2 separate regions of the Homo sapiens genome follow, and region 1 is linked to region 2. The links come from fine-mapping of genetic effects on plasma protein levels. A gene starts in region 2. The other region holds a variant in brackets. All regions are shown on one strand. Distances are between the middles of the regions. Region 1 has its middle 4.7 kb from the start of RPS14. Region 2 holds the start of NDST1 (N-deacetylase and N-sulfotransferase 1).

What was found. A credible set is the group of variants that fine-mapping cannot tell apart. PIP is the posterior inclusion probability: the model's chance that the variant is causal. Protein levels are from the aptamer-based SomaScan assay of Sun 2018.
Region 1: its variant is the best candidate, but not a certain one, in a credible set for the plasma level of the NDST1 protein (Sun 2018, PIP 0.55).

What each region holds. Positions count from the first base shown.
Region 1 is chr5:150,449,940-150,458,915 of GRCh38, reverse strand. No RefSeq gene overlaps it. Among named protein-coding and RNA genes, the nearest start is that of RPS14, 4.7 kb to the right of the region's middle. RefSeq lists silencers at 1-14, 4,574-4,774 and enhancers at 8,789-8,976, 8,722-8,976. The variant G/A (reference allele first, on the strand shown) is at 8,545.
Region 2 is chr5:150,504,037-150,513,092 of GRCh38, reverse strand. It overlaps NDST1 (N-deacetylase and N-sulfotransferase 1), which reads right to left and starts at 4,962. Exons shown (of 15, transcript NM_001543.5): 1 at 4,867-4,962. RefSeq lists enhancers at 450-1,103, 2,405-2,978 and a silencer at 1,192-1,486.

The DNA of each region.
Region 1 (8,976 bases), 54 kb after region 2:
AGCAGAGTTGGGCCCAGGATCAAACCGAGGATCTGCCTCCGTTGGGTCAGAGCGAGGGAGACCTCTCACCCACCGCCCCCAAGGCCCAGGCCCCAACCTTTGATCTTACCTCCCACCCACCCCCTCCCCTCAGCACAGAGACTTCTCCCGAATCCCTGAATGATCCCAGGTCCCCTTTGATTCAAGACCTTTCCACGTGCTGTTTCGTGAGCTGGGAGTTTTCTTTTTCTTTTCTTTTTTTTTTTTTTTTTTTTTTTTTTGAGACAGAGTCTTGCTCTGTCGCCCAGGCTGGAGTGCAGTGGCACGATCTCGGCTCACTGCAAGCTCCGCCTCCCGGGTTGACGCCGTTCTCCTGCCTCAGCCTCCTGAGTAGCTGGGACTACAGGCGTCCGCCACCACGCCTGGCTAATTTTTTTATTTTTTTAGTAGAGACGGGGTTTCACCATGTTAGCCAGGATGGTCTCGATCTCCTGACCTCGTGATCCACCCGCCTTGGCCTCCCAAAGTGCTGGGATTACAGGCGTGAGCCACCGCGCCCGGCCTGAGCTGGGAGTTTTCTCCCACCCTCTTCTTCCTGTCCTGGCTGTCTCCTACTCCCATTTTGGGCCCTCCAGCAAGGCCCCTGAGCAAGCCAGAGCCCTCCGTATCCCCCGTTCCTTACTTTGTCCTTGTTTCTTGCCCATATTCCCTGCTAGACAAAGCCCCTTGGCAGCAGGCCGTGACACGGTCACTGTGTGGCGAGTGCTGAGATGACAGGTCCTGGGGCACACAGGGGCTCCCATCAGTTGCTCGCAGACCGCGTGTGAGTCCTGTGAGCACGGGGAGCAGGTGAATTACAGCCCTGGAGGACGAAGCCTGCCGGTCTCTAGAGGGGCATTGCTACAGAGGGAGCCATCTCCAGGCCTTTTGTAGCCCCTCCTCCCCTGGACCCTGGAGGGTGTGCACCTGGCCTAATCCCCAACACACACACCGCCGCTCTCCCTTGTGTGCCACACTTACACACGCAGACTAGCGCTCATGTGTGTTCTGGGGCTCAGACCAGCAATAGACCCATGACTCCACGACAGCTTCACAGCAGCCAACACTTTTGAGAAGGTCCTCCCTCCAAGTCCCAGGACCACCTGGGCCACAGTTGGTGTCTGATTCCTGGCTGTGTGTCCTGGTGAGCAAACTCACCCTCTCTGAGCCACAGCTTCTTCCCACCCTTCCTCTGTTGCATTTGCAAACTACCCTTCAAGGGGAGGAGGGGATAGAGCTCCTGGACAAATGACAGTATGAGCTGCTGCCGAGAATGGGGAGCACGGGGCCTTCCAGGTTGAGCTTGAGGACCCAGGAAAGGGCTTGGCTTCTGCTGCTGCAGGCTAATTCCTTGCTCTTCCTTCATCCAATCAACAGATATTTACAAAACACCTGTACCTGAGGTTACACGAATTGGGCTCTGGAGTCAGACTGCTTGGGCCCAGATCCTGGTGCCCCACTTAGAGCTGTTGACCTTTTCCTTGTGTCCTCAGTTATAACGGGGGGGATTAAACATTTTCTACCTCCTGTGGTTGTTGAGAGGAAGCTGCTTGCTTTCCACTTCCGGAATGAGAACTTTCTCCAGCTCCTGCTGCCACATTTGCCCCCACCGTCTTCCTTCCTCATTAGCACCTGAGGTGAGCTGTCCACATTCCTGCCTAAAGCCGATGCCTCCACATGCGCAGCAGAGGCCTTTACCTATTGCCTGCTCAATGTCAGGGCTCCAGCATGTTTTTCCTTCACTTCTAGACTATTCCCAGCAGTGTTAAAATATCTGTTATTGATGCAACCTTAAAAAAGGAAAAAAAAGAACCTCTTGATCTCACATTCCCATTCTCCATCTGCCCCCTGGCACACCTCTGCAGAAAAACTCAAGAGCTGTCTATGAAGGAACTGGGCATGGTGGCTCACACCTGTAATCCCAGCATTTTGGAAGGCCGAGGTGGGAGGACCACTTGAGCCCAGGAGGTCAAGACCAACCTGGGCAACTTAGGGAGACTCAGTATTTAAAGAAAAATGAGGGCCAGGCACGGTGGCTCATGCCTGTAATCCTAGCACTTTGGGAGGCCGAGGCGGGCGAATCACTTGAGGTCAGGAATTCGAGACCAGCCTGGCCAACATGGTGAAACCTCATCTCTACTAAAAATACAAAAATTAGCCAGGTGTGTGGTGCAAACCTCTAATCCCAGCTATACGGAGGCTGAGGCATGAAAATCGCTTGAACCTGGGAGGCAGAGGTTGCACTCAAGCCTGGGCAACAGAGTGAGACTCTGTCTCAAAAATAACAAAATTTTAAAAATTAAAAAAATAATAATAATTGGGCCAGGCATGCTGGCTCACACCTGTAATCCCAGCACTTTGGGAGGCCAAGGTGGGCAGATCATGAGGTCAAGAAATTGAGACCATCCTGGCCAACATGGTGAAACCCCTTCTCTACTAAAAATACAAAAATTAGCTGGGTGTGGTGGCGTGTGCCTGTAATCCCAGCTACTCAGGAGGCTGAGGCACGGGAATTACTTGAACCCAGGAGGTGGAGATTGCAGTGAGCTGAGATCACACCACTGCACTCCAGCCTGGTAACAGAGAGGGACTCTATCTTAAAATAAATAAATAAATAAATAAATAAATAAATAAATATTGGAAAGAGCTGTCCAAGAGGTGTGGACCTCCCTCTCTTACTCCATTCACACTTTTGCACTCCCCCCACCCAGCCCCCCAATCAAGCTGCTGTTGTCAAAGTCCCCAGTATTTCATGTTGCTACATCCAACGGTCATCCTTAGCCCTTGTTATCCTTGACCTCTAAGCGCGATGGCACAGGTGCACACTCCCTTCTGCTTGATTGCATTTCTCCAGTTGCCTTCTGGATGTGCCCTCTCCTGGTCTCCTTTCATTTCTGTTCATGGCTTATTTTCTTGGCTCTCTCCTTCTCTTATCCCCATGCTCTCAACGCTCAGTCCTTAGCCTCTTCTTTATCTACACTCAGCCCCTTGGCGGGACTCGTGATTAAAATCAGTCTTGTGATTTTAAATACCATCTGTATGCTGGAGACTCCCAAATTTACACCTCCAGCCCTGATCCACTTCTCAATTCCAGATTCATCTATCTCAGCTGTCATTCTGACAGCTCCACTCGGGTATGTAATAAACAGCTCAAACTCAGGCCTACGAGTGGGCATCTGATCTTCCCCTAAAAACCTCCTCCACCCTCTGCCTTCCCTACCCCAGCTGAGGGCAACTCCATCCTTCTGGTTCCTCCAGCCATAAATGCTAGAATCATCTTTGACAACACTCTTTTCCCATGCCCCATGTCTAGTTTAATCTATCAGTAAATCCTGTTGGATCCATTTTCTCATTTTCTTTTCTTTTTCTTTTTTTTTTTTTTTTTTTTTGAGACAGAGTCTCACTCTGTCACCCAGGCTGGAGTGCAGTGGTACGATTTCAATCTCTGCCTCCTGGGTTCCAGCGATTCTCATGCCTCAGCCTCCCGAGTAGCTGGGAGTATGGGTGCGCGCTACCATGCCCAGATAATTTTTGTATTTTTTGTAGAGATGGGGTTTTGCCATGTTAGCTAGGCTGATCTCGAACTCCTGACCTCAATTGATCCACCCACCTTGGCCTCCCAAAGTGCTGGGATTATAGGCGTGAGCCACTGCACTCGGCCACCATTTTCACTTGATCTTAGCCAAAAGGCCGAGAAGCTATCGGACCCCATTTTCAAAATAAAACCAAATATTAGCGACTTCTTTCTACCTCTACTGATGCCTCCTCCGTCTTAGCTACCAATGTCTTTCACTTGCTTTATTGCAAAAGCCTCCTAACCGTCATCCCTGCTTCTACTTTTGCCCCTCACCCCACCCCACAGAGCACCCAGAGTGCACCTATTAAAACAGAAGTCAGTTCTGTCACCCTCTGCTTAAAACCTTCCAGTGGCTCCACTCAGTAAAAGCCAATGAACTCTAAGGCCTACATGGTCTACACAATCTCTCTCCACCCCCAGTGACCTCTCGTCACATCTCCTCACCTGCCTGCCCTGGCTCACCCCATACCAGCCACCCTGGCCTCCTTGCTGTTGCTAGAACATGCCAGTCATACTCCCGCCTCTAGGCTTTGCACATACTGCTCCCTCTGCCCATAACCATCTTCCCTTAGATACCTGCAAGGCTGGCTCCCTCTCCCACCTTGTGGGGAAAAGAGAGATCAGACCATTACTGTGTCTGTGTAGAAAGAAGTAGACATAAGAGACTCCATTTTGTTCTGTACTAAGAAAAATTTTTCTGCCTTGAGATGCTATTAATCTGTAACCCTACCCCCAACCCTGTGCTCGCAGAAACATGTGCTGTGTCGACTCAAGGTTTAATGGATTTAGGGCTATGCAGGATGTGCTTTGTTAAACAAATGCTTGAAGGCAGCATGCTTCTTGAAAGTCATCATCAATCCCTAATCTCAAGTACCCAGGGACACAAAACACTGCGGAAGGCTGCAGGGACCTCTGCCTAGGAAAGCCAGATATTGTCCAAGTTCTCCCCATGTGATAGTCTGAAATATGGCCTTGTGGGAAGGGAAAGACCTGACCGTCCCCCAGCCTGATACCCGTAAAGGGTCTGTGCTGAGGAGGATTAGTAAAAGAGGAAGGCCTCTTTGCAGTTGAGGTAAGAGGAAGGCATCTGTTTCCTGCTCGTCCCTGGGCAATGGAATGTCTCGTTGTAAAACGCAATTGTATATTTCATCTACTGAGATAGGAGAAAACCGCCTTAGGGCTGGAGGTGAGACATGCTGGCGGCAATACTGCTCTTTAATGCACCGAGATGTTTATGTATGTGCACATCAAAGCACAGCACCTTTTTCTTAACCTTGTTTATGACACAGAGACATTTGTTCACACGTTTTCCTGCTGACCCTCTCCCCACTATTACCCTATTGTCCTGCCACATCCCTCTCTCCAAGATGGTAGAGATAATGATCAATAAATACTGAAGGAACTCAGAGACCGGTGTCATCGTGGGCCCTCCATATGCTGAGCGCCAGTCCCCTGGCACTCTTTCTCTATACTTTGTCTCTGTGTCTCTTTCTTTTCTCAGTCTCTCATCCCACCTGACGAGAAACACCCACAGGTGTGGAGGGGCAGGCCACCCCTTCACCACCTCACAGCTCTGCTCAAATCACTCCTCAGCAAGGCTGCCTGGCCCTCTCTGTTTAATTCAGCCACCCACCCCACCCCTTTCCTCAGACCTTCAGTACCCTTCGCCCAGCCTGACTTTTTCTTTCTTCTTCTTCTTCTTTTTTTTTCTTTGAGATGGAGTTTCACTCTTGTCGCCCAGGCTGGAGTGCAACAGCGCGGTCTCAGCTCACTGCAACCTCTGCCTCCCAGGTTCAAGCTATTCTCGTGCTTCAGCCTCCCAAGTAGCTGGGATTACAGGCACCTGCCACCACCCCCAGCTAATTTTTGTATGTTTAGTAGCGACGGGGTTTCACCATGTTGGCCAGGTTGGTCTCAAACTCCTGACCTCAGGTGATCTGCCCACCTGAGCCATGCAAGGTGCTGGGATTACAGGTGTGAGCCACCACACCTGGCCAACTTTTTCTTCTTTCCACAGGACTGACCACTTTCTAACAAAATAGGAAGCTTACATAGACATTATGTCTGCTCTTCCTTCCAGAATGTAGACTTTGAGAGGGTAGGGACCATTGTTTTTGTCACTGATGTATCCCAAGTATTTACAATGTCAGACACATCCTAGGTGCTCAGTGAGTGCTCCCTGAGTGAGTGTGTGAGCTCTGAGAGGGGAGGGTAAGTACACCCCTGTGCTGGCAGTGTTGACAGCGCAGGGGTGCGGTGGGGTGGGGAACGCAGACATGGCAACAGTGAGGTGAGGCCCCACGGAAAGTGGCTGTGCTGCCCCTCCAGCCTCAGCCCCCATTCCTCTTCCCTTATTCACAACACCCCAGTACTACTGGCCATTTTTTAATTCCTTGAGTTCTCCAAACACCTACCCACTTCAGGGCCTTTGCATATTCTATTCTCCCTGCCCAGACCATTCTTCACACCTTCACGTAGCTAATTCCTACTCTACTTTCAAGTCTCAGTTCAAATGCCATGATTGTATCTCAGTGCCTGACAAAGAGTAAGCGTCCAATAAAGGTACAGGTTTTTGGCTGGGTGCGGTGGCTCATGCCTGTAATCCTAGCACTTTGGGAGGCCGAGGCTGGTGGATCACCTGAGGTCAGGAGTTCAAGATCAGCCTGGACAACATGGTGAAACCCCGTCTCTACTAAAAATACAAAAAATTAGCCAGGTGTGGTGAAGGGCGCCTGTAATCCCAACTACTTGGGAGGCTGAGGCAGGAGAATTGCTCGAACCCGGGAGGAGGAGGTTGTGGTGAGCTGAGATCGTGCGACTGCACTCCAGCCTGGGCGACAGAGTGAGACTCTGTCTCAAAACACAAAAGATACAGGTTTTCATTACACATTTTAAAAATATATATATTGGGTCTCACTATCGCCCAGGCTGGAGTGCAGTGGTGTGATCACAGCTCACTGCAGCCTTCACCTCCCAGGATCAGGTGATCCTCCCAAGTAGCTGGGATTATAGGTGCAGGTCACCATACCTGGTTAATTTTTCTATTTGTTGTAGAGAAGGTGTTTCACCATGTTGCCCAGACTGGTCTCCAACTCCTGAGCTCAAGTGATCCTCCTGCCTCAGTCTCCCACAGTGTTGGAATTATAGGCGTGAGCCACTGAGCCCTGAAGTTTTCAACATACATTTAAAAATGTACTATTATCGGCCAGGCGCGGTGGCTCACATCTGTAATCTCAGCACTTTGGAAGACCGCGGGGGCTGGATCACCTGAGGTCAGGAGTTCGAAATCAGCCTGGGCCAACATGGTGAAACCCCGTCTCTACTAAAAATACAAAAAAAAAAAAAAAAAACTACCCGGGTGTGGTGGTGTGTGCCTGTAGTCCCAGCTACTAGGGAGGCTGAGGCAGGGGAAGGCAACAGTGAGACTCTGTCTCAAAAAAAAAAAAAAAAATGAATAAAAATAAAAATATGCTATTATCATCCCATTTCACAGATGAGAAAACTGAAGCCCAGAGAGGTTACAATTTTTGCCCAAAGAACCATAGCTAATAACTGCAGAAACAATAAATATGTTGATTAAATAAAGTGGAGTTTGAAAGCAGTGACTTTGATGGTTTCTGGGATAAAGATAGGCTTCCCTGTGGAAAAATTTGTCCTGAGGTGATTGTGTGGGCTGCCTTCAGCCATAAGATCAAGGCTTGCTCCCTCCATGAAGCCACATGAGGTTTGGAGGTCTGTTTAATACAACTCTTAATCAAAGCGGAACTCACTCCACAATACTCCAGTCTCTGCTAACATACTGGGAAGCTCATTAAAACAAAAAAGCCCTCTCCTTCAAAAAATACAGACATTTCACAGAAGAGATGCAAATGGTTAAAACAATCCGTAAAGAGATGTCTGACGTCACTCATCATCGAAGAAATGCAATGCAACGAGAAGGTATGTTGAGGCTGGGTGCATTGGCTCACGCCTATAATGCCAGCCCTTTGGGAGACCGAGGCGGGTGGATCACCTGAGGCAGGAGTTCGAGACCAGCCTGGACAACATGGTGAAACCCCGTCTCTACTAAAAATACAAAAATTAGCCGGGTGTGGTGGCGCACACCTGTAATCCCAGCTACTCGGGAGATGAGGCAGGAGAATCACTTGAACCCAGGAGGCGGAGCTTGCAGTGAGCCAAGATGGCGTCACTGCACTCCAGCCTGGGCAACAAGAGCCAGACTCCGTCTCAAAAAAAAAAAGAAGGTATGTTGAGTTTTTCAGTTTAGCAGAATAAATTTTTTTTTTTTTTGAGACAGGGTCTCGCTGTGTCACCCAGGCTGGAGCCACGGGATATATTTATATATTTAAAATATATTTATAATATTTATATAGTATGTAATACAAAAATACTATATATATTCCATATAAATATTACATATAGTACATAGATAAAATGTATCTACCGCTTGCCTAGCTCTGTGAGGTACACTTCTTGGCCCTTCCCCACAGCTCCGACATATTCTCCCAAGCCTTCAAGGTCCTTCAATATTGTTATTAGAGGCTGGGCACGGTGGCTCACGCCTGTAATCCCAGCACTTTGGGAGGCCGAGGCAGGTGGATCACGAGGTCAGAAAATCCAGACCACCCTAGTCAACACGGTAAAACCCCGTCTCTACTAATACACACACACAAAAAATTTGTCGGGCGTGGTGGCACGCGCCTGTAGTCCCAGCTACTTGGGAGGCTGAGGCAGAATAGCTTGAACCTGGGAGGCAGAGGTTGCGGTCAGCCGAGATTGCGCCACTGCACTCCAGCCTTGGCTACAGAACAAGATTCGGTCGAAATATATACATGTATATTGTTATTAGAGGGCTATGTGGAAGTAGCTATTAAACACGAGGGCTTTGAAGCTAGAATTCCAAACCCTTCTGCAAAGGTGTGCTCTCAGTTAACATCCTTTATCTGTAA[G/A]AGGGAAATCAAAATTATTTGATAATGTCTTGAGGAGTAAATGAAGCAATGCATATAAACTGTTTAGCCCAGACCGGTCTGAAAATACATATTGAATAATTTATTCTTATTTTGCCCATTATATAATATGCCAAAGTAAGTGATTACGGTGTGTTTTCCCCGACTATGTTGCCTAGGCTGGCCTCGAACTACTTGGACGAAGCGATCCTCAGCCTCCTGAGTAACTGGGACCACAGGCCGGCGCCACCCTAGCTTTAATTAAGGCCGTTTTGTTGTTGTTATTCCCCTGCTCCACACAAGGGGCGCTGCCGCTCCAAGGCTGCCAGGGCGGGAGTCAGGATGGCGGAAGTCTGTCTAGCCACGACCACCGCCATCATGGAATACAGGCCCACCTCACCCCGCGGGTGTAGCCGCTTCGTACTGTCGCTTAGG
Region 2 (9,056 bases):
TCCCAAGCAGCTAGGACCACAGGTGTGTGCCACCATGCCCAGCTAATTTTTTAATACAGACAAGGTATCCCTATGTTGCCTAGGCTGGTCTTGAACTCCTGGTCTCAAGCAATCCTCCTGCCTTGGCTTCCCAAAGTGCTGGGATTACAGGTAATTCCCGGGTGCAGTGGCTCCCAGCTGGGGCTTGAATGTTGGCTCCATTATTTACCAGCCTCATGACCTTTGAGCAAATCTCTCAACCTCTCTGAACCTCAGTTTCACTAAATCTAAAATGGGGTTTATACTACTTATCTATCTTGCAGGGCAGCTACCAAGACAAAGAGAGATGAGGCATGTAAAACACTGAGCTCAGTGCCTGGCACATGGTAATATAAGCTAATAAAATGATTACTCAGTAACAGATTTGGAAAGTGAGGCTCAGGAAGGAACTGGCCCAAGGCCACATATCAAATTAGTAGTGAATTGAGAAAGAGAGAGGAAGGGAGGCCAGGCTGACGCCAGAGGGAAGGAGCAAGAGAATGGGATCCAGGAAGGAGGTTCGAGATCTTTCTGGGAGTGCGGAACAAGCAAACGACCTGTTTCCTCATCCTGTATTTACTGAGCACCACTAGGTGCCAAGCATGCCACTAGGCACTGAAAATGCAGTGGCGACCATGACCTTTCCACAAGGGTTTCTAGAGGTCTCTGGAACCCAAGGTTTTATGTCTCTGGTACGACATGGCTGCAGTGAATGGGGGAAGGTGCCCAGGGCCTTGAATGCTCACCCAGCCCACATTTTATTTCCAGCCTAGGTCACTCTTGACAATGCCCTCTGTGGACCACACACTGCTCCCTGCCCCCCCAACACACACACCACATTCACATGCACATGACAGGCTCAAATGGCATCATCATAGGCATCTGGGCCACATGCACATGGGGTGGGGGCTGAGAGGAGGTCAGTGCAGAAAGAGCTCTGCCAGCAACCTCAGAAGGATGTGAATGGGTGGGTACCTGGACTTGGGCAGGGACCTGAGCAGGGGAGGGCGTAGCAGTGGCTGCAGGCCTGGGGAACAGGTAGCCCCACATGCACCCAGGGCCACTCCCCATAGCTGATCCAGCCCCTCCCAGCCAGTCACACCCCCAGCACAGTCACATCATCACCCCCACCCAGCCACACCCCACAGCTTCCCAGCTCCACCAGCCACCCTACCACAGCCTGCCCCACCCACCACATCCAGCTCAGCAAGGAAAATCCTCCACATTTGCTTCCCAGCTGTGCGGGAGTTTCTCCAGCGTGATTACATCCCTGGGAGGCCGAGACCAGAAGCAAATCCCTTCCTCTGCTGGAATCTGCTACATGCCCCATCCCCCATCACCCCCACAGTGCTGCCTGGCCAGGAGCCAAGCTGCCGCCTGTCAGTCACCCCAGAGTCCAGGACCACCACCACCGGGAAAGAGACTGTTGGAGGTCTGGCTCAGAGTCGCAGGGCCACAGAGAGCACAGTCTACCCTGCAGTAAGCCCCTGGGGACACTGAGACCCAGAGAGAGGAAAGGACCTCCTGGCTTGTGCCGTCTGGTGTGCCCCACTCTCATTTACCTTGGTCCATTTTCTTGTCCATTAAAACCCTGTCCCTCCTCCTCCAATGCCAGCCTCAGCAGGGAGGTGAACAAGCCTGCTCTGGATTTCTAAAGTCCTGATTGAGCTCCCCTGCTCCACATCCCACCACGCAACACCAGGTATCAGTTGTTCTTGCAACTAGAACATGGGGCTCCCAACTTCACTGAAAGCTTTCCAAGGCACAAGCCATCTCCTACCCACAGCAGGTACTCAAGAGCCTTGTGCCCTTGCCAATTACCTTCCCCTCTGTGAATCTGCTACGCGGCATCTCCAAGCTAAATGCATTAATAACATTAACTTCCATTTATGAGACATGCCATGTCTGCGTTACATGCCATTATTTCAACCTTACCACAGCACCATGACCTAGATTCCCCCCATTATACGGATGAGAAACTGAGGTCCAAAGAGGCCAGTCACTTGCTGCAGCCCACAGAGCTAATAAGGGGGTGAATGGGAACTTCAGCACACAGCTGCTGGGCTCCAGAGCCTGGGCCCCTCATCCCCCATCTCCGCAGCCCCTCTGTGATCACCTAAGACAGCTAACATTTGCCAGATGCCCTGCACATCCCTTTCTCCATTCCTTTTCAATAGTTTTCTGTCTGTGTTTGTTTTCATCCATTTTATATGTGTTTTAGTATCACAAGCAGCCTCTAGTGATCTTTCTTGGAAGTAGCTCACAGATCATCCGTCAATCAACAAGGAAACAAAGCATTAAGCACTACTGGTTCACTCCCTGGTTCTCAACTTGTGAATCTGTTCTGGGTTCCCTGGCAGGGAAGGCCCAACAGAAAACCTCAGGAACTTAGACCTCACTTGTTGAGAATGTGTCCTTCTTCCAACAGGGCCTGAGTTGCGAGTTTACCTTTGTACCAGCTCTGAAAAAAAGGGCTTACCGAGCAAACATACCAGACAGCCTGGGGGTGGGGCTGTGTGGGGAACACGGCAGGTCACCTGCCACCCTCCCGTCCCAAGGACGGGACAGTCCTGACAGTCCCACTGAGGCTCTTCACGCACACCAAGGCTGTCAGGTCCATCACACAGAATGTTATGCAGTGGCCACAAATCTTCCCAAAATGGGGCTCTCTGCCCACCCTATCCCCAAATCTGCCTATGACAGAGTCAAATCCATCCAGAACTATTTTTTCCTTAGGCTCAGATCACAGACACTCAAAAGGAACAAAGCAGCATATCCCAACACATATCATAACCTCCCTTACTGGCGGCCAACGTTAAGCTCCTGCGAACATGTGGGGCTGTGCCAGGAGCCTTACCTGCTCCATCACGCTCAATCCTAACACCCTGAAAGAGGTGTCACTGCTATGAGCACTTTACAGACAAGGAAATGGAGGCTCAGAGAGGGTAAGCAACCGCTCGAAGTCACACAGCTGGGCAGAGGTGGAGCTAGGATGCCCCTCCCAGCCCACCCCACAGCCCCTGTTCGTTACCCTTCTGCAGTCCTACTTTCCACACCACTCCCAAGCCAGGTCTGCAGCCCAGGAGAGAGGCTTCCTGGAGGTGACCAGGCCCAGGGCTGCTGACCCAGCTTCTCTAGCTGAGCTTCAGCCTCCTGGGAAAGCCTGCACTGCAGAGAGGTGCACCATGGAACCCAGCAAGGCAGGACTTCAGCCAGAGGGTCCTCACGCCCCCATCAGACACCCCAATATAAGAAAGGGGGATGGCGGCTCGGGGCAGTGGCCCCTGCCTGTAATCCCAGCACTTTGGGAGGCTGAGGCGGGTAGATCACAAGGTCCTGAGATCGAGACCATCCTGGCTAACACGGTGAAACCCCATCTCTACTAACAATACAAAATTAGCCAGGTGTGTGGCACATGCCTGTAATCCCAGCAACTCCAGAGGCTGAGGCAGGAGAATCGCTTGAACCTGGGAGGCGGAGATTACAGTGAGCCGAGATGGCGCCATTGCACTCTAGCCTGAGCGAAACTCCATCTCAAAAAAAATAAAGAAAGGGGGGCCACCTCCTGCCCCAGGCAGAGGCCTCATGCTAAGGAAGAGGCAGGAGCGAGGGTCAGAAGCAGGAGATCTCAGCTAGCAGGGCACCGCAAAGGACAATGGTGAGCACCTCGCCTCACGGCCTGGCATGTGCCAGGCGCTCTACCAAGCACTTCCCAACCCTCACTTCATTTATTTGTCATTTATGCCCAGTGAAGTAAAAACAATTTTATCACACCCTGAGCTTCTCCCCTATCTGCCTCCCCTGCAGAGGAGCTGGGAAATGTGGGTCACCACTAGCCCCCACCCTCCCGCATGCCCGACTCCAGGCCTCAGATACACCCTGAGAGATTCCAAGGCACAGGCAGACTCAGGGGCCTCCATCTCAAGGATGCAGAAGCCAAAATCCATGCGGGCCTGGAAACCACAACAGCCTCCCAGTCCTTCCCTCCCAGTCATCCCCTTCCTCTCATCAGGGGATGAGAGGTCATTGTCCCCTGAATGAGCCAAGCTTCCCCAGCTTGTAAGGTCAGGCAGAATGCTGGCAGGAAGACAGAGGCAGGGGGTGCCACAGCCTCCATTGCCGCCTGTGAGTCTCTGGGCAAGTCCCTTCCCTTCTCTGAGCCTCAGTTTCTGCAACTGCAGTGAGGGGTATGGACTAGAGGAGAAGTCTGTGACCTTCTGGGGGTTATAGAACCCTTTGAGAATCTAATGATGGCTATTAGCAGATTCTCTCCCCAGACACACAAATTCAGAGTGGTTGTGACTGGCCCCCATCAAAAGCCAAGTTAAGAACATGGAAATTCTCTAGGGGCCCCTCTGGCTTTGACAAGCCATGGCTCTCACAGTCTAGACAGGACCAAAGCCACAAACACAACATCTGAGAGCCCTGGGATCTCACCATTTCAGCTTCCCCCGTGGCCCTGAAATAAATCTTTAAACTCTTGGACCTGCTGGCTTCAGGTGGATTTGTGGACATGCCTAGCTGTCTGGAGAAGCCACAGGAGAAACTGAGCCCTTCCTTCCCATCCCTCAGCCTCCTCCTCCTTCTCCTCCATCAGGAATCTGCCAGGTCAGCCTAGACCTCTCCCTGGGGCAGTTCCGGGAGCTGCTTCTGATCTGGAATGAAGGCAGGACCCAGTGCCAGGCTCAAGTGCCAGCCTGTACCCCCAGATCCCTCCTGGGGACACACACACACACACACACACACACACACTCAGATGGACCTGGAAGGACTGGACAGGGCAGGGGGCCAGGGACAGTGGTCAGAGTGGACAGGAGCCAGCGAGACAATGACCAGACCCAGACCCACCGGAGCTCCAGGCAGTGGCGTGAGGTTCCTCTTCACTTCGCCACGCCCTCTCGAATGTCCTCTCCTTAACACGGCTGCACCTAATCCCAGGGCCAGGAAAAATGGCATTACTGTTGGCCCAGTCCCCTCCCCAGGAGAAAGGGAAGGCAGAAGCAAGGGAGGGAGGTGGCCCTAGAGCACCCTGCGCCACCAACCACGTTCCTAGAAACCTCCACGCCCCTTCATGCCACCTCCCTTGTCAAGGCCTCCAGCCCCTACCTCCTTAACCTCAGAAAGAGGATGTCCTCCTCCGATTCTGCCCCGTGCCCAGGGAACCACTGGCACCTCGCCTGCCTCACCCAAGCCCTGCCTGGAGGAGCCTTCCACGGGAAAGGAAAAAGCATGTCCCTGACCCTCATGCTAGTGGGTCTTCTGACCCTCTCAAGAGAGGTAGCAGCCAACAGCAGGAGGAGCACTCACTGGCAATAAGGATAACTGGGTCCTGGTTCCAGCCCTGGCCCTTCCCCCTCCAGACCTCAGTTTCCCCACCTGTCCTGAGAAGAAGAGGAAGGACTGGTATGCCCAGCTGGAGGGAAAAGTGTCTATGATGCTGGCTTTTGGCCCCTGGCCCCACCCAGCTCAGCTGCCAGGCCCTTCCCTGTGCCCCACCCTGCAGAGAAGGAAGAAAGGTGACCGGCAAAGGTGTGGAGGGTGTAAGAATCCATGCTGGAGCCTCAAAGTGCTAGAGCTGAAAAGGGTCTTACAAAGACGAGACCCAGAGAAGAGAAGCAACTTGGCCACGGTCACACAGAACACTGGAAAAGGGCCAGGCTGGCCAGGGCTTGCTTCTTGACAGCAAATGCTTAAAAGCACCCAGCTGAAAAGGTATTTGCCTTCTTAGAGGATGCCAAGGAGAGCACAAGGCAACCTGACAACAGTAGAACTGCAGGCTCTGAGAGCTGCAGTTAAAAAAAAAAAAAAGGTATGTTTATACGTGGGGCTTAAGGATGGAGGTTGGGCTGGCTTTCCAGGCTCCTCATGTCACACCACGTGGGTGGCCAAGGGTCCTGCCAGCCACAGGGAAATCCTAGGAGCCCCTTCCAGGGATTAGCAGCTTTGGCCACCTCTCAAGAAGTCACCTAAGGCCCAGCAGGCAGGCCCAGCAGTGGTGACAGAAAGAATGGCTCAGATGGACACTCCAAGACTAGCCCACTCTGGAAGATGCCAGAGCCTTGGAGAGACTGAAAATCCCCCAAGCCCCGTGGCCAGTGAGGACGGAAGCCAGGTGGGCTAGGGATAACACAGAGGAAGGGAAAAGCTTTGAGCCATCTGGAGCCACAGAAGCCCCCTAATCTCCTAGAGGCCTGGTGGGTACAACACAGGGCCTGCTGAGACCAAGGAGGCTTCACCGAGGGCCCACATGAAAGCAGCCAGTCCCTGTAGACTTGCTGGGGCTTGTCATCACGACAAAAGCTGGCCACCAACACGCCTTGGGGTGTTAAGGGACTCAAAGTACTTACATGGAGGCGCAGCTGGCAGGGGGAGGGGGCAGAAGGTGGGGAGAGGTGGGGGCAAGTGGGCCCGGCTTTCTCTAGGACACAGACAACAGCTAGAGAACAGAAACGTGGAGCAAAAAGCACTGGGTGACCTACTTCACAGAGGCTCCTTTTAAAGAGGAATAGGAGGCCTCAGCGAGACTCTAAAAAGTACCTCGCAGGGGTCCAGAACAGTTCATGGGGCCAGGAGACCAGGGTTCCAGTCCTAGATCAGGAACTCACCCAGGACTAGGCTCAGGTGAGGCCCGCGAGGAGCCTTTTAGAAGGTGCTCACTGCCAGGTGCAGTGGCTCACGCCTGTCATCCCAACACTTTGGGAGCTCAAGGCAGGTTGACCCAGGAGTTTGAGACCAGGAGTTCAACACCAGCCTGGGCAACATGGCAAAACCCCTTCTCTACAAAAAAAAATTACAAAAATTAGACAGCGTAGTGGCGTGTGCCTATAGTCAGTTATATGGGAGGGCTGAGGTGCGAGGATCACCTGAGCCCAGGAGGTTGAGGCTACAGTAAGCCCAGATTGCACCACTGCACTCCAACCTGTGCGACACAGCTAGACCCTCTCTCAAAAACAAAGGTTCTTATTCTCCACAATGTGCAAGCACACAGCGGGCACCTCCTGAGACGCTGCACTTAGATGCCTCACTTGCCTCATCCTAGGCCCGGCCTTCTTACACAACCTGCCTGTGACCTCAGGCAAGTACCACTCCTTTCTCGGCCTCAGTTTGGTCACATAAAACAGAATCATGAAGCCAGGCATGGTGACACGAGCCTGTAGTCCCAGCTATTCAGGAGGCTGAGGTAGGAGGATTGCTGGAAGCCCGGGCATTCAAGGCCGCAGTGAGCTACAACTGCACTATGGCACTGCAGCCTGGGAGATACAGCAAGACCCCATCTCTAAAAAAAATAAAATTTTAAAAAACGAGTTAATTTAAAAAATTGAATCATGCCATATGATTCCATAGACCCTCCTAAATCTAAGCTGGGTTATTCTGTAGGGAGCATAACCGACCTCTGCAGCAAATCCCCGAAATGGGCACAGTGGCCCCAGCTTCCTGCCATCGATAACCTGTCAGTCACCACGTTGTCAGTGACCACGTTCCAGGCAGAATACACATTATACAACCACCTGATGCCATTATGTTCTGGGCTCTTTGTTAAATGCTTGGCCTCTACTTGATCATGGCCTCATTTTACAAATATGGAGCCTGAGGTCCACAGAGATTAAGCAACTTGCTTAAGGTCCCTGTTGGGAAGTGCTTAGCTGAGATTCGAACCAGCATCTGTCTGGTTCTTAATCCCCACATTCCATGGCATCAGCCACAGATAACAGAAAACCCACCAGGGCTGGGGAAATGCCATCAGCTCTTTGCACCTCCCACATTTTCTAGCATATAATGCCGGGGCTAATGTGAAGGCAGGCTGGTGGACAGCCGGGAGCAGGTAGGCAGGGATGGGGAAGTCCGTGTGGGCACTAAGCATTCCACAGATGAACCAGCCTCCAGCCCGGCCAGCTGCCCACCACTGTGGTTACAATGCCCTCATCGCCATCAGCACACCACAGCCACCGCTGTGCCATTTTTAAATCATTACACAGATGCAAAGCATTTTCACAGGCATTGCTGCGGTATCACATGCCAACTTTATTAAAGTATAGCAGGGATTTCTTCCCCCTTTCTCAGAAAAGGAAAGTGGGGTTTCCAGAGGATAAGTGGCTTCCCAACACGCACACAGGAACACAATGTTTGAGATGAACTTGGAGCCCACATCCTCTGCCTCCCAGTCCAAGCTTGGGTCTACTCCTCCATGCTCACGACTTTCCAGTTCAACCAACTGATGGGCCTTTGGGACAATGATGACCATTTCTGAGAGTTTACTTGGTACCAGGTGTTGTACTCTGCATTTCACACGTTATCCCATTTAACTGTCCTGACATTCCTATCAACTAAGTATTGCTACTGTTTTCATTTCACAAAGACAGCAGCTCAGAAAAGTAGGGTATCATGCCCAAGGTCACCAGGCCAGGAAGGGGCAGAGCTGGCATCCAAACAGAGTTCAGACTGGCTCCAGAGCCTGGGGCCTAAACCTCATGCTGCACAGCTCTGTCGGGGAGACTCTGTCACGGGCAGTCAGTGGAGGGGACAGGAGGTAGACACATCAAATAGTGTGTGCATCTGGCAGATTATGGCAAGATTACGATAATGGAGGACAAACAAAGCTCTTAGGGAGCCCACAAGAGGGAGGTTGTTACAAACGTCCAGGCAGAAGGCCAGGAGTCTGTGCAGAGGACACGGAAACAGAGGGGAGTGGCAGATATGAGGGAGGCGGCCTTGTGAGACCTTGGTCAAGTGCCTTGCTCTCTCCAGACCTCAATTTACCAAGCTGTTAAGAAAAGTCCTTGGAACATCTCCAGAACCCCCACCATCCCTGAAGACTCCTGGGCCCTGGGAAAATAAGCAATGCCCGGTGACAGCCTGGCTATGAGCCCTGGGGACTCTGAAATGTCCTTGGCTGTCCTGGCACAGCTCAACTGCTGGGAAACAGGCTTGCAGAAGCAGAGGGCTTGGCTGGCATGCCTGGGCACCAGTGAAGTGTGGGTTCTGAAGGGGCCACATTCCACCCATTGTCAACCTCTCCACGGCTCTGCTGGAGCAAGCAC